Linked DNA regions of Homo sapiens: regions 2, 3, 4, 5 and 6 are each reported to be linked to region 1. Evidence: microRNA targets listed by miRTarBase, many of them from high-throughput screens and not tested one by one. Region 1 holds a microRNA gene; each other region holds the end of a gene's coding sequence. Distances are from middle to middle.

Region 1 (5,086 bases):
GGTGAACTGAATAGGAAGATAGGGTAGGGCACCATCATACTAGAATAAACTCAAAAATACAACTTTTGTGTTCAAGGAAAACTCTCAAGCTCCATCGAAGTATGGACACACTAGTCTGCCAGGTACTCTCCTGAAACTACACACCAGCTTCTCAAAGTGAAGGTCTGGGCCAGTATGTTACACAAATAATTGTCCAGTTCTAGACTTATTTCTGTTTCACCTAAATTGGCCAAATATTTGACTTGTCTCATCCATATTTATTAAGGACTCATCAGTGTTTTACTTCCACAGGTGGGATTTTCCAGTCCAACTTGCATGAGTCTTGAAGGTGCTGTCAGTCTAATAAGCCTCCCCACTCAATATTTTTTTCATTATCTATTCACCAAGACCCGCTTATAAATTTACAGCTAATAAAATCTGGTAAAATTTAGATAAGCAGGACCCATGTCCTACAAAGCATTTTCTACCTAGGTTGATAGCATGGCTTCATAAACCCGATTCAAGATGCTGTCTCTGGAAGAAACAGTCTACATAATTACCAATTTATTGTGCAAAACCACCTCAGAATGGCAATTTTAGATAAAGAGCTGTCCGCATCCAAATGAATAAAACAAAATAATCCTGTTTGAGGCACCGCAGTTACATTTTGCTTCTCACGACTTAGCAGTGTGGCACTATTTAAGCATTCAATGAGAGTGCTATAAACTTCTTTTATAGAAAAGACGTCTCAAATCATTGTTTTTGTGCTTTAATGCTGCACTCAATTTCACACTTACTCGTTTGAGGACTGGAATCAGGGCCTCCTGAGAGCAAAAATCTGTCGTCTGTATTTGCAACACCTAGGCTGGAGCTTTGAGCGTGGTGGGCGGATCAAAAACTGTTTAATTGGTAGGTAGTACAACAGACCCCAAAAATGTCTGACCTATAGGTATTTAATACTATTGTAGCCTATCTCAGTGGGAAGTGAACAAAACAATATAACTTAGGGTCTTAACTAACACCACCACTTAGGGTCTTCCCACCACATCCTGGGGATTAGAACATGGGTTCTTCCATCAACAGCCTGAAATAGCACTGCAGCTGCAGTGAGGGGGTGCAACATATGTACTGGCAAGTCTTCCCAGCAAATGCTACTTCCGCCCCCCACTCTCAGCCCACTGGGCAGGGCAGCCATCTAGAGGAAGACTGTGGCAGGGGGTTGGGCTTAGAAATGGCTTCCTAGGTGGCTGATTTGCCATCATTTATTGCAAGCCACTGGCTTAAAAGAGTTCTACTGAGGGTAGTTCATAGTCATGCACCTCCTGTGCAAAAAGCCTGATCAAGGGGCCACAGCCCGCCTTCCTGAAGATCCTACAAGCTTGATCCCCTATCAAATCAAATCTGGCTAATCTCTGAATAGCTTTACAAAACTGGCTCACTGGGCCAGGCGAGGTGGTTCACGCCTGTAATCCCAGCACTTTGGGAGGCTGAGGTGGGTGGATCACGGGGTCAGCAGTTCGAGACAAGCCTGGCCAACATGATGAAACCCCGTCTCTACTACAAAATACAGAAATTAGCTGGGCGTGGAGGTGCCACGCCTGTAATCCCAGCTACTCGGAAGGCTGAGGCAGAATTGCTTGAACCCGGGAGGCGGAGGTTGCAGTGAGCGGGGACAGTGCCATTGCACTCCAGCCTGGGTGACAGGGTGAGACTCCGTCTAAAACAAACAAACAAACAAAAAAAAAAAACAAAAAAAAACTGGCTCATCTTGTTTTGAAGTGTTGACATAAACTAATAGTCAAAAGCACCACTCAATCTTTTATAATGCAAGTGAAATCAGTGCTGTGCCCCTTCAAGGAACCATGTGACAGTATGTTTAGTTGAGCACCAGTTCCTTGCAGGAACAGTTGCTGGCAGAAGGGCTGTGTCTACAGCCCATGTGGAACTAAGGAGTTTTCCCATTCAGTAGGGAGCATCCCTCAGCCTTGATCTTCAACATTTCTTCTCTTCCCTAATCTTTTCTCTCATTTTATTTCTTGGCTCATAGAATTTCATTCTTCTCTTAATGGGCTTCATTTTTAATGTCTGGCTGGCTGTAACCTACTTCAAATTCTTTATGAAGTAGGCAAGATCTGCACAGCCAATTAATTTTTCAGGACCCACTTCTTATCATCACAGAATTATGAATGGGAAATAATAGATGAAAAACACAGACATGATAAACTGAACATAGTATTTATTAAGGTCAGGATGCATGAATAGACTCTTCTCAACAGAAAGATAATTCAACAGCAATCAATTTACAGAATTTAGAACAGCACTACATTTCAGCAAAATGCAACTAGAGAACATCAGATAAATTATAGTAATTTGTTTTTAAAAATCCATTAAACTATCTCTTACCTCTGCAATAATGTATCATACATGCAGTTACAGAAGTTAGTAGGGAAAAGCATGATCTTCCTTCCCTATTCTCTGCCCATCCATCTTCCAGGAAACCACAGGCTGCTGCTGCCCAGAGTTGGCATGAGGCTTCGAGGCTGCTGCTTTTCCCCCTACATCATAACCGATTTCAAATGGTGCTAGACAAAAACAGACTCTGAACACCAGGAGAAATCGGTCAGCCTGTGTAAGAGATGGGCCAGTGGTGCTCCCAGGGTCTGCACCTCGACAGTCCAGGTGGCAAGTCTGATTTCGGGTGCCCCGCAATCAACGCCGAATACTCCAGGGCATCCTCTAAGAGCAGACTGATGGTGTCGATGTGGACAAAATGGTCCTCCAGGTGTACTGCCCTCTCCCCTGCCCCATGACAATCGACACCCAATACATTGTTATCCAACAGAATATGACAATCGCCACACTCAAAGGCCCTACGAACACATTCATGCTGGTGATGGCTGCTAGGAGTCAACAGAAATAGCATCACAACCTCTGCCCCTGCTCAAGCCACTGTGTTTATTTTAAACACAACCCCCTTCTCTACTGTCACCTCTCCCAAAACCCAACAAACTCAAGAGTGTATTTTGCTCTTCAAGTTCTTCCCTGGACTTCTCGAACAGACTCAAGTGGCAAGAGGAGAGGAGCCAGTTCCATGAGCAGCAGTTCCTCTGCAGTCCACCCTTGGCTGTGCTGCAATTCTTACTCCTAAAACACTGATTTCAAATGGTGCTAGATACAAAGATGGAAAAATCTAAGCCACCATGTGAAACCAGCTTCCAGAAGAAGAGGATCTCAATGAAGAAAGAAGGGAGATTCAATCGGAAGACCCAGCCTCTGCCCTGAGGAGAAATATCTTCTTGTAGTTCTACTTGTGATATGACACAGTGCTCCATGGGAAAGGCACAGAGGAGGTTACACAGGGCTGCACAAGGCAACATGAAAGGCACAGCTGATGCTTCAAATAGATGAGAGCAATACAAAACTCATTAATTCTAGGTTAATTCTATTTAACTTCACACCAGTCACTACAAATTATTATATATGATGAAATAAAAGCTAAAATTATTACTAAAATACATTAATATTTACATTTGTACTGCCCTGCATTTGTATAGTATTTCACAGTACACAAAGTGTTTCCAGATATATTCTCTTACTTCATCAGGACACAAGCACCCTATCTGCCTGTGGAATGAAGCTCCAGCTGCTACACAAAGGCGAGTCTCACCTGGGCCAGGACAACTCTTTTATGTGTCTTAACTTGAGAAAAGCATGCATTCCTCCTTCCCACCCCATATGTAAGTATCAGAACATTCAAATATGACCCCATGAACCTGCAATCTTATTTAACCCCGATGTGACTTCAAAAACTGGTACCCTATAATTGTATTAAGCAGATAATCCTCTAACGTAAGAATTGAGTTTTATTTTCAAAGTCTGCTTGAAAATAAGATTTGCACACTGTATTCCAAATTAGATTTCCCATCTCCTTACTGCATCATCTTTTTTGGTGGTTTGAAGCTAAGAAAATATGTGTATTTCCTCTGATACCATAACCAAGAGAAAAGAGACAGAGTAGACACTGTATATTTTAGCTTCCTTTCAGGCCTCTAGATACAGCCTTATAATTTTTATGGTTCCTGGCACTAACAGTATGTGTTGCTAGAAGGAGAAGAAATAGAATTTGAACATCAAAAGTTGCGGTGTTTAATTCTCACAACAGTCGTATGGGGCAGGTATTATTCCAATTTTTGCGAAGAAATTCATCCTTAATGAGGCTAAATAACTTGTCTGCAGTCACACAACCAATCAATGCAGATCCCAGGTCTAACTCCAAAGACTGTGTTTCTGCCCTTGTATCCACTGCAGCCTGCTCCATAACTTGACTATCATCTCATTTTGTTCTTGAACTTCATTAAGAACAAAACAGGGTGGGTGGGGCAGGAAATTCCTAGGCGATACTTCTGCACTGAATGGGATCATACTGACTACATAACACGTTATACTTAGGGGGAGACAGGAGCATCATCTGGGTTCTGCGAAAGCCGGGTGGTCTGGGGCAGCTTGCTTTGTTCTCCTGCTCCTCTAGCGCCTTTGCCGTCTTTCCCCAGCATGTGGCTGTGGGAAAGACACTGAAGATGAACCTGCAACAAGCGATTCTGACACCAGCGCTAGGCTCTACAGCCCACGGGGGACTTGCTAGCCTCAGTCACAGGTGGGAGAGCTGGGGCAGATCTGCACACAAGGGCTCTCAGTGATGACACCTGTAGCCAACACCTGGGGCTTGTTAACCAGGTAACAGCCAGGGTTGTAAGGTCAGGAGTGAGTGTTTAAGGACAGTTACTACTGGGAGTCCAAATCCTGTCAAATGAGGGGATTTGATGAGATTCTCACTTTTCTGCTTTTCATTTTAGCCACTCTTCCTTATCAACTTTTAGTTACCAGTACCCCCTCCCTATGAGCTATCACACAGGTGTCCCGCAGTGATCAGAAAGCACCTTCCTCCATGGCGAGGTCCTGCCTGCCTAAGCTGTTGTCTCTTCTGGAATACTCTCCTTCACCCTCCCTTGGCTACCACCCCTCAGCCCCGCCCCCACCCACCACCACTCCAGGGAACCTGTCATCCTCCCCGCAGCTCAGGAAAGCCTCCCTGAGTCCAGCCCTTGCT
Region 2 (5,086 bases), 170 Mb from region 1:
GAAGGGCTTTCCGCTTGAAACTGTGTGGTGCTGGCCCCTGTGGTCTCTCTCCCACACTCCTCCCTTTTTGAGGGAGGCACCAGGTCCAGATTGAAGGGGGCTGCGGGCAGTGACAAGATGCTCCCCAGGGGTGACCTGAATGACTGTGGTGCCTCAGGGTCCTCACTCTAAATGGGAGGTTTGCTTCATGGAGTTGTGGTGGTCCGTTAAAGTAAGCGATGTCTGGGGAGGGCAGGGGCCTGGTGCTGGGTAGCTGCTCCGCATATGCTCCTCCAAAGGCAAAGTCCTCCTTCTCTCCACGCTGGGCCTTGGCCCCTTTTCCCCGCCATCTGCAGGCGCTCTCTCTGTAGGGAAGATCCAGGGGTCATTCTGGTTTCAGGGGGACCTGGGTCAGGAGCCCAGAGGCCAGTCAGAAGCATGCCTCAGAGACCATGGGCTGCGGCCCCCTCCATTGACAATTTGAGGGCCAAAGAGAGAAAGGGAGCCACGGGTCCACAGGGCCACAGAGCCAGCAGGAGGCCTGCATGCTCCTCCATCCTGGGTGTTCCCAGAGCCTCTTCGTGATCCGGAACAGTGCTCTCCTCTTCCTCTGAAGTGCTTCTGTTTATCCCTTCTCTTTGTTATTTGAGGCTTTGAGTCTGTTCTACCAAAATATTCTCTCCTACCCTGACGGCCTTCCCTCATTCTTGTTCCAAAGCCTTTTGGAATTCAGATTCTGCTTCTGGAGCGGCATTCCTTAACCTGGCACAGCTTCTCCACCCAGGACACCTACCACTCCTGGTGCCCCCCCTTGCAGTCCAATGACTCCCAGACATGCGGGGAGAACAGGAAGGCTCAGGGTCACAGCCCAGCCTCCATTAAGAGCTCACTGAAACTGCCCTGGGGTAGCACAGCACCCTGTGCTTTCACTCAGGCTATGAGAAGCCTACAGTTCTAGCTTTACCCCTGCCACTGAAAAGCTATGGGACATTAGCCAAATCCTCAGCTTCCCTGGGCCTGGTTTCTCCATTGAAAAGTAGGGATAATAACACTTGCCCTGTCTGATGCATGAGGGAGTTTACAAGGATCAGATGATAGGTGAGAAAGGCTGTTTGAAAGCATAAAACGCCTGCAGAACTGTGACTAATGAAAGCTCTGTTCCAAAAAGACTCCCCGCACAGTCTGCCCCTCCAGCCTTCGCACTCTGGGAGTGGGCAGACTGCCTGTGGCTGAAGACCCACTGCCACTTCCTCTGCAACAGTGCCTGACCGAGAGCCAGCCTTGCTAGGTATGTGTTGATCATTGACTGATTGGTATGAGGATTCAATGCTTTTGCCTCCCTCCCTGTGAAAAATCGGAGACCTTTCCACCGCCCTCTCTCATTGTCAGTTAGGAGGGTCCGATTCAGTCTTTAGCAATCTAGCACCTTCTCTGCAATCATCATTTGAAATTTTGGAGTTCTTATCACCCTCCCAACTCAGAGTCTGAGATTCCCGGAACTATAAGCTTGGAATGGAGACTACTTGCCTCAGGGCGCACAGCTAGAAAGCAATACAGCCAGCTGTGTGGCCACCCCCAACGATTCTGCCTGCCCAGGCACGGCTAAGCATCCTGATCTGCAATCCCATCATACTCTTGGCATATTTCCATTCACTGCACTTATTGCGTCGTTTACCTCCTTCCTAAGGTCCCTGAGCACCTTGAGACTGTGTTAGCAGACACATTTTTGTGTTCCACCCTCTCGCCCGGGCCCTGCGCCTCTGTGACACATGTGGCTGTCCCATTTACCTGTGCTAACCACACTGAGTACAGCATCTGTCTCTTGATGCCCCTGCTGAGAGCTCTGCTAGATGCCTGGGGCGCCAGAGACCAGCGGCGTCTTCCACATCCAAATCTTCACTGTGTTTGAGGAGTTGCCTTTCATCCCCTCCAACCCTCCCATGGGCTCTCTCCTTTCTTCTCAAGCAGTCATCCTCTCATTGCTCGCGCGCCCTTGCATGTGCGTTACCAAACGCAGACCGAAATCACAGTCGCATCTCAGCCGGGCTGCCATCACCCCATGCTTCCAGGAGGACTCGCCCCACTCTATATACACTTATCTTGGGCCTGCTGCCTTGAAAACATCTGGCCTTTTGTGAGCTCAGTTAAGAGGCTGCTGCCTGTATCTGTTTAGCATAAGTTGAAACTGTAAAGTCATCTGCCTTGATGTGGAAACTTCTGGAAAACCAGAATTAGGCTGATGTAGTCTTCTGTAATGTTGATGTCTACCATGGGCTAAGTGTCGTGCTGGTTGCTTTGTGAGCATTCCCTTGTTCATCCGCTCAACCATCGCGGGAAGGACTGTGATTCCATTCCGCTGGTGAGGAAACACATACAGGTTCCCTAACTTGCTGGAGGTCACACAACTCCACATGGTGGAAGTGGGAGTGTCACCCAGCTCAGTGTGTGGGTAAAGTTCATGCTTTTTGCACTAACGTGGTCCTCTCTGTACGCCGAGTGAGCCACCCAAATAGGATGGCGGGGATCAACCATGATAAAAGGAGGAGTGACTGTCTTGACTGGATCATTCCCACCAGCCAACTAACACGCAGTGCTATCTCCCAGCTCAAAAAATAATCGTTTCCTAAAAAACAATTTTTCTTTTTTAATAGCAATACGGTCTTCCAATGTTGCCAAGGCTGGTCTTGAACTCCTGGGCTTAAGTGATCTCCTGACTTGGCCTCCCAAAGTGTTGGGATTACAAGTGTGTGCCACTGTGCTCAGCCCAATAAACTTTTTAATTGAAATTTTTGTTTTTGTTCTTATTTATTTATTTGAGATGGAGTGTCACTCTTGTTGCCCAGGCTGGAGTGCAATGGCGTGATCTTGGCTCACTGCAACCTCCGCCTCCTGGGTTCAAATGATTATCTCGCCTCAGTCTCCCGAGTAGCTGGGATTACAGGCGCCTGCCACCACACCCAGCTAATTTTTGTATTTTTAGTAGAGACGGGTTTCACCATGTTGGCCAGGCTGGTCTCGACCTCCTGACCTTGGGTGAGCCACCCACCTCAGTCTCCCAAAGTGCTGGGATTACAGGCGTGAGCCACAAAGACCAGCCTTGTTCTTTCTTTGAGACATGGTCTTGCTCTGTCACTCAGGCTGGAGTGCAATGGAGCAGGCTTGACGTCCTGGGCTCATGATCCTCCTACCTCAGCCTCCTTAGTATTGGGACCACAGGTGTGCATCACCATGCCTGGCTTTTCAAGTTTTTTTTAGAGATAGGGTCACCCTATGTTGACCAGGCTGGTCTTAAACTTCTGAACTCAAGTGATCCACTGGCCTTCGCCTCCCAAACTGCTGGGATTACAAGCGGAGCTACTGAGCCTGGCCTAGCTTCTTCTTGATGCCTTTTCTCACACCTCACATCCAATCCATCAGCAATGCCTGTTGGCTCTACTTTAAAAATAGGCCCCCAGACACCCCTGACAATCCACCACTTTCCTTTTTATTTGTTTTTAGAGTTGGGATCTTGCTTTCTTGTGAAGGCTGGAGTGCAGTCGGGCGATCATAGCTCACTGCAGCCTCGAACTTCCAGGCTCAAGCGATCTTCCTGCCTCAGCGTCCAGCTGGGACTACAGGCACGTGACACGTCTCCTGGCTAATGTCACCATACTCTTTCTTGACCAATCTACACCGCCACATTGGCTTCCTTGTTTTTCCTCCACCTTGGACCCTGACTTGTTTTATTTTCTACCTCTAAGGGTTTTACACACACACACACACACACACACACACACACACAATTTACATGTGTTATCTGTTTCTCCTACAAAATACAAGCTGTATGAAGGTGGGGACTTGTTCACTGCCACGTTCCCAGCACCAGGCACTTAGCTGGTGCTCAGTAAATACATATTGATTGATGGAAGAAGTGAACACTCATGTGCAGGTTCCTACACTCAACGCCCTGTGGCATCTCAAGCACAGTAAAAGCTCTGGACCTAGTACCAGGGATGTAGCCAGAGGAGCTGAATCTCCATTTCCAGTGTTTCCTAGAGTGTGTCTTCCTGCACAGGGAGGCCGAGATACAGGACACTGAGGCCAGACGGCAGAGCAGGAAGCATGTGGCTGACATAGGGGTGACGTGCCAGAGCACTGCTGACCGCCGCTCCCTGCCAGAAGAGGATTAACAATAATCCCAACCATTCACCCAGAGCTTTACCGTTTACAAAAGTGTTGTCACATCCGATATTGCATCTGGGCCATACAGCTGCCCCAGAAGGTGAGCAGAGGGAGGACTATGATCCCCATTATACAGATGACAACCCCGAGGTGCTGAAGGTTAAGTGTCTGGCCTGTGGCTGCACAGCAAGTGGTTGAGCCAGGTGCCAAGCCAGGACTTCTCGTCCCACACCTGCCACTGGGTCCTGCCTAGAGCAATTTTTATCAAGTGAGACCTCTGGGACAGAATGGGCAAATTTCCATTGTCTGAACAAACCAAGTAAAAAAAACCATGAATCATTTATTCTTTGGTTGTCTACACAGACACTTAAGTACTGTATCGCTGTCATGCAGCGGCCTGTGGAGGCCCCTGGGGGTGGCTGGGCCTGTGTCCTGAGCCCTCAGCCAGATCCAGGGGGTGCGGTGTCTGGTCATGTCCACTCCAAGAGCAGTAGCACCATGTAGAAGGCTGTGAGCAGGGTCCCCTCGGCTGAGTGGCAGATGTAGGCTCACTGCTCTGCAGCCCCGAGGGGCTGGCCAGCTCAGAGTGCAGAAGAGTTCCTCTCCATGGGTCTAGTCACCCATCCGTCTGACCTGGACGCTGTCATAGCTCATCCTTGGGCTTCGATTCACTGCCTGAGAGAGACTCTTGTGCAGGTTCGGGGGGGCCCTGCTGGGCATCCAGGGGCTGCTCCTGGGAGAGGTCCATCTCTTCTGGGCTGAAGAGCATCTTCACCAGGTCATCTGCCTGCACCCTGTCCTGCAAGGACAAACCCCTGCCCATTCAGAGAGGCCTCCGCTCCAGACACTCGCTATCTCTCAGCTGCTACTTCCCAGGGGACAAGGAAGGTTCCTTAATGGCCCCAGGCTCATCTCCTTCCCAGCAGGTCCTACTCTCTGGAAAAGG
Region 3 (5,085 bases), not on the chromosome of region 1:
CAATGAACTGCCACTGAAGGAATGGGGGAATGAATGGATGAATGAAAGAGTGGATGGATGGATGGATGGATGGATGGATGGATGGATGGATAAATGATGAATAGATGGATGGATGGATAGATGAATGGATGGATAGATGGATGGACAGATAAATGATGAATAGATGGATGAATGGATGGATGAATGAATGAATGGATGAACAGATGAATGAAAGGGTGAACGAATGTGTGGATGGATGGATGGATAAATGATGAATAGATTAATAGATGGATGAATGGATGAATGAATGGATGAATGAAAGGGTGAATGGATGAATGGATGGATGGATGGATGAATGGATGGATAAATGATGAATAGATGAATGGATAGATAGATGAATGGATGAAAGGGTGAATGGATGGATAGATGAATGGATGGATGAACAGATGAATGAATGGATGTGGTGGCAGAACTCCTTGGGGCCAGTGGGAGGAGGAAGGCAAGGAAGGCAGACTGGGGGCATGCACCCTCCCTCCAGGGTTCCTTCTCCCCAGGAAACTTCCCAGAGCTGTCACCTACAACCCCGAGAAATCGTGGGAGTCCCCTTGCATGACGGGTGCGAGGGGAGTCCCACAACTCTGGGCCACAACTGTGCCATGGCTCAGCCACCGGCCGAGTGGACCTCAAGCCTCCTGCTGCCTGGGATGGTCAAAGGGTCATTGTGAGTCTGAGCCACTGACTCCTCCAGACCAGGCTGGGGCCCCTCTGCAGGATGCCTCTCCGGAGGACAGATCAGCTGCCCACCTGTGCATTTCTGGCCGCTCCACCAGCAGGCACCACGCCGACTGTCCGCCCACCTGCCTTGCTCTCTCTCCTCTTCTGGATTCGATGGCAAGGACCTTCAGACCCATCAACCTTTGACGACTGTGAGCGTCCATTGCCGGAGTCGCTTTCCCAACTCAAATGCATTTATTAGGCGCCATCCTAATCTACTCCAGGATTTTAAGAAAGGGGTGGGCTGCTCAAATTCATGACGACTGAGTTTTAACTGGCGTTTGTCCCTCAAGGCGTCTCTCAATGTGGTCTTTAAACAGTTGATGTTGGGAAACGGTTGCCTCTTCCAACTCTGCGCATCCTTGATTCGTGGGCCGTTTCCTTTCATTCCTGGCTCTTTCCAGAGCTGGTCTGCCACGTGGTACCTTGCCACATGGAATTCAGGCATCCAGCCTGCCCACCATCATTTCATGTCAAGCCTCCTCCCCAAGGGTTGCAAGTTATGAGTTCATAATCTACCTCTGAGCTATCACAGTGATCAAACAATTGTACCCAATGTTCTGCCTGTGGATGACATGGGTCAACAGCCTCCCATCCTCTCACAATGGCCCCAGCTTCCCTGGGCAATGCTGCAGACCACCCTTCTGTTGTGAAAGTCGCCTCGTCCTTAAGCACCTACACAATTCCGGATCACCTAGGTTACTGGCTCTCCGGCTTGAACGTGCAGCAGAGTTGCTCAGAGACCTGCTTTCAGATGATTCAGCTCTCCCACAACATTTGGGCCAGCAGGTCTGGGATGGGGCTCAGGGACTGGCACTTCTAACAAGGTGGTGCCATTGCTGCCATTCCCCGGACCCTGCTGGAGACCCACTGGCCTAGGTTATTCGGCAGAGTAATCAACAGTCCCTGACATCAGTGGCTTTAATAAAACAAAAATGTGCTTCTCCTGCTCCTGCTACCAGTTCTCACAAGCTGGCAGGGGGCTCACTCAGGGAACCTGCTGGTGACGTAGCCCCTCCACGAAACATGGCTGGTGCTGTGCCCGAGGGAACCACACCTTCAGACCGGAAGAGGCGAATGCCACGTGGGCTCAAGGTCATCGGCTGCAACGAGCCCCGTGCCTTCCCCGACCTCTAGCCACAAGGAGCTAGGGAGTCTAATCCTGCTACACAGCTGGAAGGGCAGTGCTGGAGAGCTTCAAGAACATTCTCGCAGGGTGCTGACTGCCAGGAGTGAAGAGTGAGGACAGTACACGGTGGTGTGGACACCCAGCAGTGGCTGAAACTCACTTCTCGGGCTAGTGCCCGGTTACGTTCTAACATCCTCCCAAGGGCACAAAGCTGTCCATGCCAGCCTTGGCCACTCCTGAGGGACAAGCTCCACCTAAGGACAGCCGGGGCCATCCCTTCCTTTCTCTGGGTGGCCAGTGTGGTTATCTCCAGAGCTCCTAGCGTCCTGGGACTGTGTGCAGTCCTGTCTGGGAGGGGCCTGGCCACACTTAAGAAGAGAGTCACTCACATCTGTTTACGGTGGAAACACCCAACTCGATTTATTGAAAAACTATTACAGTTAATTATTCCTTTGTTACACAAGTTTAGAATATTTTAAGATATCCTTTCCTGGGCATTACAGTTAAAACTTATGACATGTCTAGCGGATTTTTTGAAACCGTACAATGTGTCATTTGACATTGTATTTCAAAAGGCCTGATGTCCTCGAAACTTTATCTTGGGTTTTTTGCTTACCATTTTTTTCTTTTTGCCAGCGTTTGTCCAATTATATATATTGAGAGGAAAAAATAAAATTACACCAAAAGAATTTCTGCAAATATAAGAAGTAATTTTATTGCAATATACTGTGGCTAGAGTGGTCTGGGGAGAACGGGACACATTTTGAAGTTCAGTACAAATTATAACAACTTTGAAGGGACCACAGAGGAAGAAAATGACAGGAGAAAAGGACAAATTGGATGGGATGAGAAATGAAAACAGAATCACATGACCTAGACGCAGTCCACGGGGGTCGCGGGACAGTCCTCGGCTATGGCTTTTCTTTTGAAGAGATGAAGGTGACAGTCATTGGCACATGCTGGCATCCTGGGCTCCAGAGACTCTCCAAGCCAGACTTTTCTTTGGCAAGAGCGAGACTTACTTTCCAGGGAAATTTGGAAAATCCACGCTGGCGGTGTTTTGTTCCTCCTGGGTGGCTTGTTTGTGGCTTCCTAAGCTGGAACTGCATTCTGGTGGTGGTGGGGGTCGGGGACAGCACCAGAGCCCCGCAGGCTCACCCCAAGGGCCCAGCCTGCATTTCCCATGGTAGAAGGAAAAGGCGCTGCACCCGGGCAACTTTTCACAGTGAAGAGATCGCCTTTCCTGGCTGCCCCTCGGGTCCTCCTGCCCACAGACGGCAGCCCCCCGACCTCGATGGCCAGGAAAGGGTTCCCCAAAGGGGACCTCACCCGCCCCGAGCTCTGGAGCCGCTGACGCTCGCATCCAGGACATTTGAGATGGGAATCCAAATAGGCTACTTGGAAAAGACGTGCTGCAGGCAGCCCTGGAGAGACTCATGGAGTTCATTGTACATTACTCCATCTACCGAGGCAGCGCATGGCATGACTGAACGGCTTGGAACAAACACAGAAATTAGCACCACAAACATTCAGGAACCAAATATAATCTGCTATGGTCACACCACAGACAATGCAGGAAGAGGCTTTTTATTGCTTGTGTGTGTTTTCAAATCAAGTAGGCACAACCCAGTCCTCATAACAGCCCTCGGGAGTGGACGCACCGGGGCGGGAGAGCGCAGGAGGGAGTGTGCTTGGCTATCCTGCCCAGTGGAAAGGAAAGTGACGTGCATTGATCTTAGAGTCCTTGGCAACAGACTGTGGAGGCAATAACAGGATAAAGAAAGCAGGGAGAACGAGGCATGGCCAGGGTCCCCAGTGCGCCTTCAAGGAGACCTTAAAACAGATAGATAGCACCACAAGAGAGCCACAAGAGAGAAGTGTAAAAAATAAGCACCAATTTTCATTGAGTTATCACCTACAAAAAATGTGGTTTCCCTGCCCTGGACATTCTCCCATCAGGCTCTGCGGGAAGAAAAGCGGAAAAAGGAAGCAAATAAAATTAATCCAAACCTGTGTTTTAGTCTTAAGTGCATGTAGAAAAAAGAAAATTATCAAATTTTTTCCCTATTAAAAAAAAAAAAAGTCTAGAGCGAATCAAAAACTGTCTGAAAAGGGGCACTGGTACCTGCTTTTCAATGGCAGCATAAATTCTTGCTGCCCCGGGGCAAACTTCCAATTTATTGCACGTTCTTGGCCAGGGCGGGGGTGGGGAGACTTCCTATTTCTAATCAGAACGGTACTGCAACCCAGAATCCATGCCTCGCCCATTCTGTCCGTGGGACTGAGACTGGGTTTCCGTGCATGATTGAAAGCCAGGCACACTTAACATTTATAACAATACAATACAAATATTTACTTAAAACTCACAAAAACATAAGCACCTTTAATCCATCGGGAAGGCACCTGCAGAATGACATTTGGCCTCTAAATGGATCGTGTTGGAGGTTGTTAAAAACGGAGGCTTTGGTGATGGTGGGATGACCTTTACGAGGCTTACCTTGGAACATTTTTTGAAGGTCAGGGGAAATACACATCTTCAAGTTGAATTTAGAAAAAAATATAGTGTCCAAATCTGGCAGTCCCTCCCCCAACCCCTGAGACCTATTCACGAACAGGATGGGTCGGGCGAGCTGGGGGGCTGGAGGCATGGCCCCGCTCCCGGGGCGCGTGGGTGTGGACAGAGCGTGGGGCGGGCCCAGGCGCTGGGGTGCAGCTAGGTCATGTGATTCAGCTCCAGGTGGGGGCGCGGCTCCTTCCCTCTGTTCTCTCCGGGCTGGGGTCCCACACCCCGTGGTGCCGAGGCGTAGATGAAGTCAGGTGGGAGGGGAGGGAGAAGCCTTCACTGTCCAGGGTCAGGACGTGCACGGGACACTCACGAACGAATGGCATGCTGAGGTCACGAGGTTGCTCTCGGGAGCCCGGGCTCGGCGGCTCCTAGCCCATGAAGCAAGCCGGCCCCACTTCAAATCCAAATTTCTGTGACGCTTCACCGAAGTCATTGAACATGATGTCCACGATGGGCACCTGCTCCACTTTGGGGGTGTCGATCTCCAGAACCGTCTTCTGGTAGCCTTTCTTGGTCTGGGGAAGAGGGAGACAGATGGCCGGTGGTTAAGAACAGTTGGGGGTCTTGGGGTTTACCAATCACCCCCCACAATCTGTCTGGCTCCAAAACCCAGGCTGGTGTCCTGTCTCCTACCCAG
Region 4 (5,086 bases), not on the chromosome of region 1:
CTGATAAGGGCTTTTCTTTTTTTTTTTCTGAAAATAATTTAAAAAGCTTAAAAGTTACATAGGCATCTTCAAAAGAACACAATGGGATTCATTTTATTGTTGACTTTTGGACACCAGTGTCAGACTTTATTGAAAACAAACCCATGTAAAAACAAAGTTAAAATGAAAAATGGCACCTGAAAAATAAATTATTTTATATAAAACAAATCAATAACTTAAAACACACTAATATACAAAAGGTCTAACCATCTACTGTACAACATGGGAATCGGTTAAGAGAGCCTCCCCTCCCCCAAAGCAAGTCACTGTAAACGGAACATCACATGGTCATGGTCAAAGAGGTGGCCCCAAACCAACGGAAAAGGCTTCTCTTCTGGTGGAAGAAAAATCCAGTCCTGTCAAAGTCTCCGTTAGCCTAACTTAGGTACTGGCGGTGACTTACAAGTGAGAAAAAAAAAATTTGTTTTTTTAAATGGCCAAGAAAGAAACCTGAACGATGTCACTGAAAGGTTGTAGAAAAATAGGATCCAGCCATTAGAGGTCAGGGGAAATCAAAAAGGTTTGGAAATGTGAACCCTGCCTGGGATCCGAGATTCAGATTCTACTGCCATCATTACACGCCAATTGCCAATGCCACTTAAAAGAAAGCACTTGTGACTTCAGGGCTGTCTTGCGAAGTTTGGGGACAGGAACCCCTGACCCCCAGAGTCAGCTAAACCCCAGGGGTCTCTGCTAAGGAGCTGCCTCAGGTCCTAGTAGGTGAGGTAGGTCTGGGGAAGATGGGAGGGGATTGAGGTGGAGGGTGGGGTGGAGGGACAGGATAGAGGCCTCCTGTCAGCTGAATTCTTATTCTCTTTCATCCAACACAGGAAGGCTGCGAAAAGCACATGGAAATAAAAGGGGGCTGAATCGGATGTGAAATGTAACAGCTGAGTGATGTCAATTTCGATTTTTCAAGTCCGATGCCGGACTGGGTAAGTCATGTCTTTTCAATGCCTGGTGGACAAATGGCCTTCATTTGGAAGCAAACCGGGTCAAGGAATTGCCACTAACCGTCTTCGGGTGCTTCTATTTCTCTGATCCAGCAGGGACCCCTGGGCTGCCGGCTCCAAAGGGCCGGTCTTGGCTCCCAACAGCAGCACGGTTCAGTCCCTGGAGGCTGGGTCTCCAGGACTAAGGCCAAGCGCAGACTCTCAGAGGTTAAGGCAGCTGCCCTTGGCCAGGAAAAGGCTCACCTTCCAGGAGAAGGTGGCGGAACCCACCCAGCACCACCTGCGGGCGGGCCCCCGAGGAAGCCCATGAATTTCAGGATATTCACGCAGGATGGTGGCCGGGGAGGGGACTCAGCACCCGGGAGGGAATCAGTCACAGAGCTGCGACTAGAGGCACAGCCAGCACAGAAAACTGCGGCTTGGCAAATTACACTGAAAACGAAATAATGGCAGAGCCAAGGGGGAACAAGGGAGAATTCATCAGGAAGCAGGTTCACAAATTCGGAGCTGCCTGGGGTCTAACTACCAGAGGAAGTTACACACGGGTCAAAAGGGAATTCAATCAAAGCCTCTTTGGTATTTCCCAAACCAGATTTTTGATAAATGAACATTATCTACTCTGAACGCTTTTTCATCGAAATTCCCAAATAAAAGCAGAGCACTCATTTTTGCTAAATAGAAATACAACTGATCTATGTAAAATTTTTTAAGAAATGGTTTCTTTTGGGTTGAGCCTTTTTTAAGAAAAGGGATCTCCCCTTTGCAAACAGGCCTTGATAAGATGTAATGAACTTTGAGGACACAGGGCCAGCAACTAGAACCTTGATGGAACAGAGATTGCTTTTCAGGAGTGACAGTTGTTAAGCTAAATCCTTCCACAAGCTTGCAAGCTAAGACTCCCAAATAAAGGCTTTGGAATTTTTTAGCTAGAAGGCTGTTCAAACAGCGGAGACCACATACAATGAGAATGTTCCTGAACTGAGAAACTTCAGGGAACTTTCAAAGGCTCATATACTTCACAGTTTCTTCTCACCTGTCCCAGCATCAGAATAATTGATAGGATTCAGATAAAAGGGGGCGAGGAAAGAAGCTGAGGTGCTACAAGCCCGTCATCATTTTCACAGTTGAAGCTTAAGACAGAGTTCTCTGTTGAATGCTAGCTATGGGCATGTGTGGGAGTGAGACTCCAGGGGGAGTTTCAGAAGCGGGAATCCCGCCTTCCATCAGAAGGGTGTTGGCTCCCACCTTCCATCAGAAGGGTGTTGGCTCCCACCTTCCATCAGAAGGGTGTTGGCTCCCACCTTCCATCAGAAGGGTGTTGGCTCCCACCTTCCATCAGAAGGGTGTTGGCTCCCACCTTCCATCAGAAGATGCTGGCCCAGGGAAACCTGAAAGGCTTCTTTTTCCAGGAAAGCATTCTGGTCCCAGGATGCAGACTGCTCTCGGGCAACAGAGCAGGGACCCTCTTTTGTGTCGAATCCGGGCAATGGGCCTCGGTTTTGGCTTTTCCTGAGGATCTGGGATTCTGTGGGAGAAAGGAGGTCCTCTCTGGCACCAGGCCGACTTTTATGAGACACAGCCTGGGTACGGATGGCAACATCATCAATTTGCAAGGATCGCGCACACAGCCCCTCAGTAAAAGATCAGGGAAAGGGGAGGGGATGGGCATCCTCAATTGTCCAGGGGCCTCTCGAGACGCTGACCTGCTCTGGGGACGGTGGTGCCTGCCTATTGCTCAATTTCACACTTCAATAAATAAATACATAAATAGGTATAAATAAACAGATAAATACAGCCATCATCTCATGAGAGCAATAACTAAAAAACAGCCTACGGTCACGTTTTAGTCTCACGTCAAGGTTAAAAACTGCTGGTACTAAGTTATCCTGTTTGTGATTCTCTCTGTAAACTAGTTATTTATAAACGCCAGATCCCAGTCCTGAGGAGTTTTGGGTGATCTGGCCCTGCCTATTTCACAGGCTTTCTCTTTCACCCTTCCTCCGGGCTCCTGGTTTAAAAGCCACCAGCCTGTAACTGCACATTCTTGCGTCACAGATTCAGAAATGCTTTTGCTTGAGGCAAGGATTGGTTTCTTAAGATCTTACGACTCCTCCCTGAATGCTGGGCCACCTGCACCTTCCCTAGCCAAAAAGAAAGAAAAGGTAAAATAAAAAACAAAACAAAATTCGAGCAAAACAAAATCAAATTTAATGGTCTTAAATGCAAAAGTAAAAACAAACAAAAAACACAAAAAAGCAAAAGAAAATTAACAGAACAGAACAACCCAAAATGTCAAGGCAGTTATGAAGAGAACTTTGAGGGTTAATCTTTAAAACTACAAATCAAAGGTTTTGGTTAATAGATAACTGGCAAGAAGTAAGTACTTTTCTGCTGAGTGTTCATACAAAAGCAAAATTCCAAAACAAAATCCGACTAAAATAGAAAAAGGTCTAAGCGCTCACGAGAAGGGATGCGAGAAATACAATGCTCAAATGTTTCTGTGTTATTAAAATACAGAGCCATTTTACGCCTCCAAGCTATGTTAAATGCTCTGGAAAACGGGAGAAATTATCGTGAACAACAGTATCCAATGTGTGGGGCGCTGTGCATGCAATGTGTGGACAGAAACTCGGGATGTCAGAGTAGCAACACATCTTCAGGCGTGCCTGGAGCTTAGATCTGACTCTGGAATATACTGGAGTTTCCCTGAAACTCTTTGGTCCATTCCCATTGGTGCCTGGGCTTACGAAACACGTTTGTGTCCTTCTCTGGAGGGCCCGCCCAGCATGCAGCCCGTGGCCCCCGGCCCCAGTGGTGGCCCACGCTGGACGGGCCCGCCGCCATTCCCAGGACCACTCGGCAGAGCCCGGGACTGAGTGAGCAGGAGGTGGCAACGGGACCTGCCTGGAAAAGGAACTTCCTGTCAACCAAAGCATACATCGCTTACAATGTTGAAGCGGTTGAGAAAACGCACACTCAGCATCTGTCTAACATCTTTAGATTAAAAACTAAAACTAAAAGGTGATTTTTTTGCTACCCAGTCTGTGGAGACATTGAATGAAACGCGTGTTAGACAGTCTTAGAGGTTAAAGCATGCTTCAGGTTCACCACCATCCAGAGGGACTGGTTAGTCAATGCAGTTCTACTTAGATTTCTGTTTAATATATATCTTAAAGGAAATAACTTACGAAACTTAAGATTGGTCTAACATTGTGGGATTTCAAACATTTGAACATGTCGGTTGCATCCCAGAGTATAAAAACCTTCTCACTTCTCATTCAGACAAAGACAAACACTTGTGAAAATTGGCGCAAAATGAGTTGTACACTAACAAGAAAAGTTTCAACTCCTTCACTCTTAATTATCTATTCCGTACAAAAAAAAGCATGAGCGAGTTATTTGTGGGACTTGTTGGTTTTGAAGGAAACCTGTAAGATTTTGTCCCCCAGGCGGTAGCCGTTCAGGCTGGCTATGGCCATCGCGGCTTCTTCATAGTTTGTCATGGTCACAAAGCCAAACCCTTTGCACTTGTTGGTGTTGAAGTCGCGGATCACTTTCACATTGGTGACGGCACCAAACGGCCCAAACATCTGCCAGAGGATCCCCTCGTCGGCATCCTGCCCCAGGTTGTAGATGAAAATGCACCAGCCGGAGGAGGCGTTTCCTGGCACGTTGACGCCAGAGAGCCCGCTCATGTGATCGACGCCCATGGGGGAGAACCTGGCAGACAGAGAGCAAGCGTCAGGCCACGGTCAGCGCAGGCGGCCTGGGGATGGGGCAAGGCCTGGACGCATGCTGACCATGGCCGCTGGGCCCCATCCCGCTCTGCGCAGCCACGAGGTGCTCACGGTTGAGACACCTGCATGGGTCAAAACCCTGGGAGGAATTAAATACAGTAGTGGAGGGGCGGGACCCTGTTCTGTAGGGAGCTGACTCTGAGGGGCTGGTTGGTGCCCTCCACTCCTCCCACTGTGTATGTCGGGGTTTCTGTTTAGGGGTTCCTGCGGTTCCCCACATTTTAGATGATGGGCGCTTCTCCTGGTCCTCCGTTGAAGGTAGAAATGCTCTGCAGGCCTCTGACAGCCTCAGTTCTC
Region 5 (5,086 bases), not on the chromosome of region 1:
TGTAGTGACACACTCAGAGTCTTGCATTTTCCAGCCACACCATAGTGTGTGTGATGAAGACCAGCCAGGCAGGCTGTGACTTGGAGCCAACATACTTGATTGCTCCAATAACAGATTTGTATGTTGCTTCATTTGACAGGCTGGTCGAGTGCCTACTAGGTACGAGGCACTGTTCTAGGCTCTGAGGACAGAGTAGTGAACAAGGTAACTCCAGGTGGAGTTTCCATGGGGAGTGGAGAAGGGAGATGAGGAGAGATATACACGTGGAGTGAGCCAGATGAGGCCAGATGCTACAGAGATCAACAGAGCAGAGTGAGAAAGGGGGGCTTGGGGCAGGGGCAGGTGGGACAGGATGGGTGTCACTTGCATGGATGCCTGAAGGCAGCATAGGGGTGAGTCACAGCTCCTCTGAGATTGGGGAGAAGCAGGGACTTCCCCAGGATCATCAGTAACAATGTGGCCGGGTCAAGGCTGTCACCCAAGTACATGGACAGGTGTTGGGGTTCTGGGGTTCCTGAGCTGACACTTTAAAATACTGGAAACACACCAGACATGGTGTCAGCAGAGGAGGAAAGGGTGGAGCTTGGACCTAGCCACCAGCAGCTGCATGCTCTCCCTAAGCCTGCGTGCCCTCCCTAAGCCTGCGTGCTGTCCCTGTCCTGTCTGTTATCTCCTTCATCCCTCAAAAACGGTCTTATGTGTACTAGGAGCTCACGGATAGTTTACTTTAGTAGCAGTAAATGTTTCACATTTTATTATTTTACAAAAGCAAAAATTGCTGTCCAAAGAAAGCTACAGCTCCACGCTCTGGTTGAAGGCTGAGGGCCGGGACCAAGAAGACACCTTGGGGAAATGAGGATCTGAGTGAACAGAGGAGAGTTCCTAAGAGTTCGCAAGGTGAAGCTGAGTGCCTGAGGAGGGTAGGAGAGAAAAGGACCAGCCCAGCAGCCATGTTCTCTCTCTCCCAAAGTAAACGGGGCTATTAGGATTAGGTTCAGTTGCAAGGGACAGAAAACCCAAAACCAGAGTAGCTCAAACAGAAAGAAGTTTCTTTCTTCCGTGAAAGCTCCTGAACAAGGCAGCCCAGGTATTGGGGACCCTGCCTTCCATCTTGCTCCATAATCCTCAGCATGTGGCTTTCACCTCATGGCTCAACATGGCTGCTTGAGCACCAGACATCACATCTGTATTACAGCCAACAGTGCAGTGGAAAGGCATGAAGAAAAGAATGCTTTCTCTCCAGCAAAGGGGTTTCTGGAAGAATGCCATTTTAGCCTGGCAACATTAAGACCTTGAAAAAGCCCACCGGGCCCCTGGAAGGCCCACGGACTCTGCTGCGCTGCTGTATGGGATGGCACCCAGGAAATGGGCACCCAGGCCTCGGAAGTGCCTGCAGCAATCCATGGCACAGACCAGCTGTTGGTAGCTGCCAGGATGCTGCACGCACTGGGCTCTCCAGCTGACTTCTGATGTCCGTCTCCTGGTGGAGTTGTCTCTTCCTCCTCCCAGCCAGATCCTTCTCCTGTGCCCTGGAAACTGAGAACACTGGGGATTTAGGGGAGAAGGGAAGGCCCCAGTCACGATTGGGCAGGCAGGGGTAGGAGCTGCCAGGTAAACAGATCCCTCTGATGTGCACGGCCCACTACCACCATGGGTAGACTCTACTTCCTCAAGGGCAGGGCTAGGAACCCCAGGATGAATTCAAATCAAATGACTATAAAATCTCCTGGCCGTGACAGGCACATGTCAGAGGTTCAAGAAAGTGAGTGAGTGAAGGAATGAATCAGTCCATTGATCAATCAATTGCTGGGAGCCCAAATGTTATTCAGTCTAACCTCAGCCACATTGTTCCCCAGTTTTCGCTTACACACTTCCAGTGACAGGGAGCTCACTACTTCAGGTGGCAAAATGGTTTTAGTTTTAGATTGCCCTTATGAGCCAGATCTTTAGCTTCTGGGTCCCTCTCAGCCCCAGTCCACGCTGCAGGTGGGACCTAGAATACATTTAGCCTCTTTTTTATGGGCTGGTACCCAAGTCTTCATGAGCAAGAGAAAGCGCAGAACACAGGAGCTTGGAGCCCACGCACCTTTCCTCATCCTCTCTGGCCAGAGTGGGTCTGTGACTTGCCCAAGGCCACACAGCTGGCTAAGGGCTAAGCCAAGACCAGACCGCAGACCCGGCTTTCCACTGTTTCCTTCTAAATCCCACATCCCCTCTGGGACTTCCTTCAGTGTTCCCCACAGTGGGCACTCCCTCCCCACATCCAGCCCACCCCACGATGCTGAGGATCCACTTCCTCTATGGAGACCCTCAGGCTGCAGAAACCCATCTCTCGTCACTGCCAGAGACACGCACAAGTCCACGTGTCAGGAGCTGTGCCAGGACCAAGACCAACAGAGTAGCCTGTGTGTCTCTTCTTCCCGCCAGACAGAGGCCTCCCCCAAGTTGCAGGCCTGCGTGTATGTGCACGCATGTGTGAGCATGTATGTGTGTGTGTGTGTATGTGCACGCCAGTGTGTGAGATCACGCCTGAGGCTCCCAGAGTGAGAGGAACACGCCGCAAGCTGTCGGCACATCCTGCCAAGGCAGAAAGGTTAATTGTCACGCACGATGCCAACAGACAGACCTCCGGCGGATTCATTTGGTTTTGTTTTGTGGTTATTTTTTTTTACAACTTTAAATACGGAATATAAATAAATTTTACATTTAAAAAATAAAAGGAAAGCCCCCAAAAATATAATCACCGACTTTACAAACTGAAGGAAGCAGGTTTTGGAAGGCGGGAAGGGGGAAAGTGCAGTAGGTGGGAAGGGAGGTGGGAGCTCAGATCCCACCCCAGGGGGTCTTGGGGATCTTTTCCCTTCTCTCCCCCATTCCCAGCCCACGAGCTGGTTTCCTAGGAGGAGCCACCAGAGGTGGAGCTCAGAAGGATCAAAGATGGGGAAGTGTGCAAGCAGGGAGGGGTGCGGGCAAGAGGGCTGCACCCTCCCTTGGAGACCTTCTCCCAGGTGTCCCACACCCACCTGGAAGGGCAGTTGCTGGAGCAGAGGACTTTGGGAAATGGAGGTCATGTGGACAGCAGTGTTGCCTCCCTGCCCCTACCACAGTCTCCCTCCTATTTGGCCACTCCAAGCCACAGGCTGCATCAGGGGCACAGCCAGTCCACAAGGAGTCTTTGTGTGAATTAGGAAAAGGATCCTTTTCCTCTTTACCTACATCTGCCAGAAATTGTCATAATAAATATACAAATCAGCTTTATCTATGATGTGAACAGTGCTCCCTGCATACAATGTCCTTGTGCAGTACACACCCTGCACAACCTTACATGGCAGTCGTGGCTGGGTTGGAATATGATGAGCAGGTCCCTTGCTGCCCTGGCCTCTAGTCTTCTGCCCTAGAGAGGAGTGACTGGGATCATCTGGGGCCTTAATAAGGGGTTCAAGAGCCCCTTGGTGGAGCAGACTGAAGGGCCAGGACAAGAGGAAAATGCAGGGTGGAGGTAGAGAGATGAAAGGAACCAGAGGAAGAGGTGAATCAGAGTGGAGTGTGGGGAGGAAGGGGTGGCAGGAGGCAGGGGATACCCAGGTCACCATCTACAGCCACCTCAACAGCAAACTCCATCTCTAACCCACCTGAGAGGGCACCCAGCCACTTGGTGTGCTGGCCACACCCACCAAGAGGAGTCCACGTCTTCAAAACGAAAACGAAAAGAAGCCACTGTGCACAGAGGCACCAGGGAGACGAGGTGACTGGTGTTTGGGCACCGTGGGAGGGGTTTTCTCCAGTCTGTGTGCCCGTCTGTGGTCTTAGCCATGGAGTCCGAGGCAGCCTGGCCTGCCTGGAGGTGCCTCCCCTCAGAGCTGGCCAGGGGTTCAGGGATCAGGCAGGCTATGCTGAGAGGTCCTCAGGGCTCCTCAGGACAGTCCACAGCGCTCAGGTGTGGCCCAGGCCAGGTGCAGGGGAAGGAGCCCGTTTCCCCCAAAGAGCGACCCCATCAGTCTCTCTCACACTCTTATCCCAAGTTCTTGGAGTTAAGGGAAGAAGATGGCGATGGAGTTCAGTCCTTCTTTTTCTTCTTGAGCTGCTGGGCAAGACGCCGGAGGCCGCTGGGAGGAGACCCGCTGATGGAAGGGTGGACGGACACGTGGAGGGGTGGGGGAAGCACCATTGGCCGTCCGAATCAGGCATCGAGACAGACGGACGAGGGAAACAATATTATCACTCCAAGGACCCCATGGGGGCAATACAGCAAATACCATATTAAATAACCCTGCAGGCCAAGCAGAGAGACACAGGGGTCAGAGACAGCCTAGAGGGTCCATCCCATGTTCATATGTCCCCGATGCCAGGGGCAGGGAGCTGGGGTCAACTAGCCACCCCTGATTTCCAGCAATGCTCAGGGCTGGGGGCATTGAGGGGCTGGGAAGATTGAGATTTAGACCTCCCATCCTCTTAGGGCATGCTGGGACACAGCTGGGCTGGGGTCTCCAAAGCCCACCACCCACCCTGCCCCAGCTGATAACTGGACAGGGAGGACCAAGGCTCAGAGGCTGGATTTTCTATGGAAAAATCCTTTCCCCTGACCCCATCCACAGACCACAGAGAAGAAAACACAGGATTCTGGGCCTCAGTTGCCCCGCCTGGCCCTCACCTGCCCACACACTCTCCTGCCGATGCCCCTAGGCTCCAAGGGTCTCCTTCAGTGCCGTCTTGTCATGCGTGTGCTTGAATTTCCGGTGCTTGCCCTTGGGGGGCCGGCGGACTCGCACCGTCCGAATGGTCACCCGAGTTTGGGGCGTTTTGGCTGCACAAGAAAAAGAAAGACCTCGTCAGCATGTGGACCATTGGGGAGGTCTCTCCCCACTGACCAAGGCCTGCCATGGACCTTCTGGGCTCAGGAAAGGGACAGGAGGGGAATCTGGACCAGGGTCCTGGGTTTGGATCCCAACTCCACTGCTCACCAGCTGTATGTGCCTTGGGGACAATGACTGAAACTCTCTGAGCCTTGGCGCCTCCATCTGTGGAATGGGGGTAATAAGACTGCCCACCTCATAGAACTGGTGGGAGGAATAAATGACAGTATGCT
Region 6 (5,000 bases), not on the chromosome of region 1:
GATGACACAAAATGGAGCTTCCTGGTGAGTTTTTAAAACATCAACTTCTGTGGACCCAAGAAGAAATTTAGGTTAGCACCAACTAAAAAGCAGCCTCAGTGGCATCGAGTGAGCAAAGAAAGCTCCTTCCTTTAGTCCGAACATAAGGGGTTACCAATGAGAGGCAGAAGCAACGCTGGGTCAGAGAATGAAGCCCCTGCCCACCATGGTCCCAGCCAGTGCCAGGGGAGGAAGGAGATCCATCTGGTCTCCCTTGGTGTGCCCTTGGGACTCCCAGAGATGTCTGCTTAGCACCCTGGGCTGCAGGAGAAAATCTGTCCCTGGCTATGAGAATGCCTATCATGCTAGGAGAGGCAGAAGTACCCAACTCCCCTTCCTCAAAAACAAAAACTCAAAAAACCCTTCGCCCTTTCTTTCACATCAAGCCTGAGAAGACAGGTGTGGAACCAAAAAGCACCTGCCAAGCCAGGCAGGCCCACTCCCGATCACAGAAAGGGAGATAGCTGCCTTCTCGACTTGCTTTGTTTGGCCACCAAGGGAAGAACAATACAACACAACACAACACTGCTCAGAGCAGATTATAGCACGGTAAACGGGTCTAAGACAGCACCAAAAGAGGGGAGGGAAAAAAAAAAGCCAAGAGACTGGAGCCCACCTTGTTTTTGGTTGGTTGTGGTTTCAGAACGTTGATAGCACCTCAGCAAGACAGGATCAGGGACAGTCACATTAAAACACCATAGCACCATTTTATTTAGACTATTTCAATTCATAAAAATGCTTCCTAGTCCATAAAACACACTTCAGTAACAAAAGGAAAGAGATACTGGTTGAGGCACGTCAGGGATATCATATAGTTTTCCACCAGCTTTGCCTTGGTTTGAGATCTCATGGTGATTAAACCTCTAGAAGCAAGTCTGGCTGGGTTTCTCTCAATGAAATTAGGTTATCATCGACTCATTGTCAACCGTCCTTGCACATCTACTGCTGTGTGGTACAAAGCAGTTAAGCTCTGCTACTTCTTTCCTTGCTTTAGCGCTTTAAAAATCCCTTGCTCTGCAAACTACTGTTCCCAAAAGAGGCTGGTGGAAGGACCAAGAGGGGGCGGTGGGGTATCATCTCTTTCCACGCACACCATCGTCACCTTGGTGAGAAGGCAAAGCAGTACCCATGAAGCCGGGGTGTGGGAAACATTGGCCCTGCTAAAAGCCAGACCCAAAACCAAAAACCGAAAGACCCCCAAATCCATGCAACACCTTTAGTCAAGATTTCTGATGGTCAGATGATGATTTCTTGAGCTAGCACCAGTTATTTTGTGAGAACCTGCTGCGAAGCGATTTTTATTTTAAAAATCTCGTAGCACAGAACTTTACAAGCACTTCCCTTGCACGCAACAGGCAGGGAAAACAAAACAGAGCAGAAAAGGAACCAAATGTTTGCACTGCACGTGGATGGTGTCCGTGGACAGGGCACACTGGGGAGATGACTAAGACGCCATCGATTTCCGTTGCTATAATATGACTCTTCGAACTTGGTCATGCTGTTAGGTTCTTTAGTTGCAATGGCTTTATTTTTCTTCTCATGATAAAAATGTCTGTTAATCATCTTTAGGACTTAAAAAATGATAGTGCCAGTAAAAAATAAAAATTTGATTTTTCTCTTTAAGAAAGCTTCAGCAGCAAGGGGGGGATAAAGAGCTGTGCATAGTTACTTTTTAAATATATGTCTAAAGCATGCTAATTTTAATGACTGAGATTTGAGGTAGGTTAGACATGTAGTGTACAAATCAGCATGGGCTTGAGCACGGCAACCACACCGCCTAACTCTGGAAACGCCATTCTGCGGGGAGTGGGGACATCCAATGGAGACTGCCTCTTGACTCACCTCTCAGCAGCCTATCTCCTACTGCAGAAACTGATGAACCAAGGCTGTTTGGGCTGGGGGACAGACGTCGCATGCTTTTAGCTTGTATTGGTTTCTCCTTTCATCTAATGGCTTTCCTACCAAAGGGTGATGAGGGGAAGAGTTTATTTAACATACATCAGGAAGATTCACACATGCCAAGTATCAGAATCACCTGGGTTACACTCGGGACCTTCCAAACCAACAGCCAACCTGGGGCTTCCACGGGTCATACAGACGGTCACATTCTCCAAATGTTTCGTAAAATATTGTATTTCTTGCTTAAGATCATTTAAAATGAAGTTTTCAAGGCACCCCCGCATCTACCTAAGCACGGAGTCAAATGAGACCTGCATAAAAGTACTGATGCGATAAGCAAAATAGCATTTAAAGGACCCAATTTTTCCTCAAAACTAGAAAATTAGCATGCTCATTAAAGACTCTGCTTCCTTTAGCTTGTCAAACTGAAGGTCAGAGGTTTTCCTATAAATCTGAGTTCTGAATAATTCTAAGTCCTGATAAGCTCTTGGGTATTTATTTCAAAAGCAATAATATTTCATTTTTTTGTCCTGTAAAATAAATGCAACTTTACAGAATATGGTAAAAGTGGAGGATAGACAAAGCACATTAAATATTCGGCTACTATTTACAATTTCTCCCACAATTACATGTTAAAACATACTTTTTTTTTCAAGTTGCTGTTTAAATCTAGGCAAAAGTGCTTAAAAAAATCTTTCACTATTTACAGTTAAAACCAGACCACATAAATGCTCAGGACATCTTACAACGACCCTCCGCCAGTGCTTCCAAACAGATACAGTAAACACCCAGCAGGCCGGTTCTCAGCTCTTACTCAAGGCACCCGGAAGCTCAGGAACTTGCCTATAGCGGTCATCTGATTGTTAAACATGATTCATGAAGACCCATATCTGAATACAACTGCTCAGTAAATACCTGTTCATCTCAGGGCTTGGTGGTCATCCACCGTGTGGCCACATTCCCCTCTGTGTGTCCTGATGAAGCCCCCCATTCACCACACACACATCCACATGGCTAGCATGAGATCATTTCTGCTAATATCACAAGAAAAACCAACACTCCAACAAAGTTTGACTTGGTGATGATGAGTGTTGCTCCCATCAGGCCCAACCTCTCTCGACAACGTCACAAAAATTAAGCACCACATTCTCATTTCAAAGAACCGAATGAATGCACCAGAATTTCAGAACAGCTATATTAAAGTGGATGAAGAGGGGAGAAAGGAAAAAAAGAAAATGATCAAATGGAGAAATGGCACCAATTAGGGAGGAAAATTATAGCAACCTGTTGAAAATGTTTGACTCTTGCACTTTAAAATTGTTAAGTGTAGGCCCCCGAACCCAATGACAGCATGGAGGAAGCAGGCTCAGGTGTGAGGCATGCACCATTGTCCAATGTGGAAATTCAGGGATCAGGATAGATGCATTAACTGTTGTTACACTGGTCTGCTGAGCTCCTGTAGGATGTGACCTGCCCAAGAGTCAAGAAAGTCCCAGCACAACACTACAGCACCAGGCTCCGCACAGCACCATGCACAGAGCACCACTGGCTTTTCACAGCTTGGGTTCAACTTCCTGTTTTTAAAGATACAGTAGCCCTTTTTCAGTATCAGCATAGACTTTGGGGGCATTTTTTAAAAAACTGCCACTAAGACAAATTCCTTCAGCTCAGCATGCATTGGCTTGGCAACATGGTGGGCACGGCCCCTAAGAACCTCGCACTCCAGCTCCAGCGTGAGGTGCTGCCTAGTGAACCATGACATCGTGTGACTCCATAAATAACGGACAGAGGATTCAGTGTGGAGACTAGCAAGCTTGAAGCCATCTACTTCCAACCTGGTTTCTGGGGAAAGCTATGCCAGCATCTCGTGGGGCTGGCCTGGGGTGCATCTGCCCTTCGACTCCAAGCCGGGGACTGGAAAAGGGACCCCAGATGGTTTTCTGCAGACTCTCCCATCCTATCAGAGAGGACAGAAGCTGTCCTGAGGCTCCCTTCCCCAAAGGGAAGGGGTGTATGTCGGGAGGGATGAACTGGGTGGCTACCGTCCGCGCTTGGCTCTCGAGGGGCAGATGGCTGAGGACCTCGCCAGCGCCCGAGGGGCTTGGCTCGCCAGACCCAGCGAGACTGGGCGGGGGAGCACTACTGGCCTTTCCTGCCCATCCTTTACCATTACTATTGTCGCTTTTAAAAAATCCAATAAATACACATTTTAAATGGAATTTAAAACTACTCCTTTGTGAAAGGATACTATAAACTTTCTTTCCATTATTGTGATATACAAGGATAGAGTTTTAAAAACAAAGAGAAAATAAAAATAAAAACCCCCCAGACAAGGGGGGGGGACAACTTGGAGATATAAATATTAAGATCACGGAAAAATCACCCGACAGCCGTAGTTTCTTCTTCAAAGTGCTGGGGAAGTGGGGGTAAGGGAGGGGCGGGTCAGTTCTGAGGTTTGGACCATAAATACATATATATGATATGCGCATCTATATATGTATATAGAGATAAAAAGACTTCTGCACCCCCAACCCGCCCCCAGGTATGAGGGCAAAAGCACCACAGAGACAGCTCGGGCCAGGCCCGACGCTGAGGTACGCTGGCTCCCTGGCACCTAGATCCAGCGGCTGTAGGGGCCAGTGACCTTCGTGTAGGCATAGGAGGACACGGTGACCGCCGAGTCTGTGGGCACAGCCAGTGCCTGCCGGGTGGGGACGACCCCCTTCTTCTCTTTCTGCTGGGGCTCAGCAACCACAGTGCCCCCCCACTTGCGCTTCTTCCCGTAGAGCTTGGCCTCCTGCTGGCCCAGGCCCAGCCGGGCAGCCTCCTCCTGCCGTGCCCGTGCCCTCTCCGCCAGCTGCTTCATCTTGGCTTCCCAGAGGGCCAGCCCGTGGTTGGGCTGGTTGAGGTTCTTGTGCTGGTAGAAGACCAGCGAGATGCGGGTGGGGTGGCAGCGGTTGGGCTTCTTAAGCGGCGTGGTGGCGTGCAGCTCCCGCCGGGCACACTCGATGAGGATGGAGCCGTGGGCTGGGGCCACGGCCACGCCGCCGATGTTCTCGTCC

What was found. The annotated mature microRNA hsa-miR-29b-3p reads UAGCACCAUUUGAAAUCAGUGUU and lies in region 1 at 3,128-3,150, opposite strand. An mRNA with a match to its seed (bases 2 to 7 or 8) in the 3' UTR can be bound and repressed. Matches are read on the target gene's strand: a 7mer-m8 pairs with bases 2 to 8, a 7mer-A1 pairs with bases 2 to 7 and ends in A, and an 8mer does both.
Region 2: miRTarBase lists P3H1 as a target of hsa-miR-29b-3p. Seed matches in the 3' UTR shown: 8mer at 4,632-4,639.
Region 3: miRTarBase lists COL5A1 as a target of hsa-miR-29b-3p. Seed matches in the 3' UTR shown: 7mer-m8 at 3,772-3,778, 8mer at 3,731-3,738, 8mer at 3,397-3,404 and 7mer-m8 at 3,017-3,023.
Region 4: miRTarBase lists ELAVL1 as a target of hsa-miR-29b-3p. Seed matches in the 3' UTR shown: 7mer-m8 at 1,265-1,271.
Region 5: miRTarBase lists PDGFB as a target of hsa-miR-29b-3p. Seed matches in the 3' UTR shown: 7mer-m8 at 4,161-4,167.
Region 6: the mRNA of TET3 is a reported target of hsa-miR-29b-3p. Seed matches in the 3' UTR shown: 7mer-m8 at 4,494-4,500, 7mer-m8 at 3,477-3,483, 7mer-m8 at 3,463-3,469, 7mer-m8 at 3,446-3,452, 7mer-m8 at 3,076-3,082, 8mer at 1,297-1,304 and 5 more.

The regions. Positions count from the first base shown.
Region 1 is chr1:207,799,323-207,804,408 of GRCh38, forward strand. MIR29B2 (microRNA 29b-2) reads right to left here and starts at 3,201; the gene lies at 3,121-3,201. MIR29B2CHG (MIR29B2 and MIR29C host gene) reads right to left here. Exons shown (of 6, transcript NR_135299.1): 6 at 2,196-3,340. It overlaps MIR29C (microRNA 29c), which reads right to left and starts at 2,617; the gene lies at 2,530-2,617. RefSeq lists an enhancer at 1-72.
Region 2 is chr1:42,741,914-42,746,999 of GRCh38, forward strand. P3H1 (prolyl 3-hydroxylase 1) reads right to left here. Exons shown (of 15, transcript NM_022356.4): 15 at 4,461-4,939. The coding sequence ends at 4,784. Among named protein-coding and RNA genes, the nearest start is that of CLDN19, 4.2 kb to the left of the region's middle. RefSeq lists an enhancer at 1-282 and a silencer at 3,271-3,471.
Region 3 is chr9:134,842,035-134,847,119 of GRCh38, reverse strand. COL5A1 (collagen type V alpha 1 chain) reads right to left here. Exons shown (of 66, transcript NM_000093.5): 66 at 2,277-4,963. The coding sequence ends at 4,817. All of the region lies in intron 1 of LOC101448202 (a long non-coding RNA gene), which reads left to right. Among named protein-coding and RNA genes, the nearest start is that of MIR3689C, 4.8 kb to the left of the region's middle. RefSeq lists enhancers at 1,335-1,835, 4,147-4,981.
Region 4 is chr19:7,959,096-7,964,181 of GRCh38, forward strand. ELAVL1 (ELAV like RNA binding protein 1) reads right to left here. Exons shown (of 6, transcript NM_001419.3): 6 at 1-4,712. The coding sequence ends at 4,388. Among named protein-coding and RNA genes, the nearest start is that of TIMM44, 18 kb to the left of the region's middle.
Region 5 is chr22:39,221,044-39,226,129 of GRCh38, forward strand. It overlaps PDGFB (platelet derived growth factor subunit B), which reads right to left. Exons shown (of 7, transcript NM_002608.4): 6 at 4,652-4,804; 7 at 2,316-4,270. The coding sequence ends at 4,680. Among named protein-coding and RNA genes, the nearest start is that of PDGFB, 21 kb to the right of the region's middle.
Region 6 is chr2:74,101,729-74,106,728 of GRCh38, reverse strand. TET3 (tet methylcytosine dioxygenase 3) reads right to left here. Exons shown (of 12, transcript NM_001287491.2): 12 at 1-5,000. The coding sequence ends at 4,553. Among named protein-coding and RNA genes, the nearest start is that of BOLA3, 44 kb to the left of the region's middle.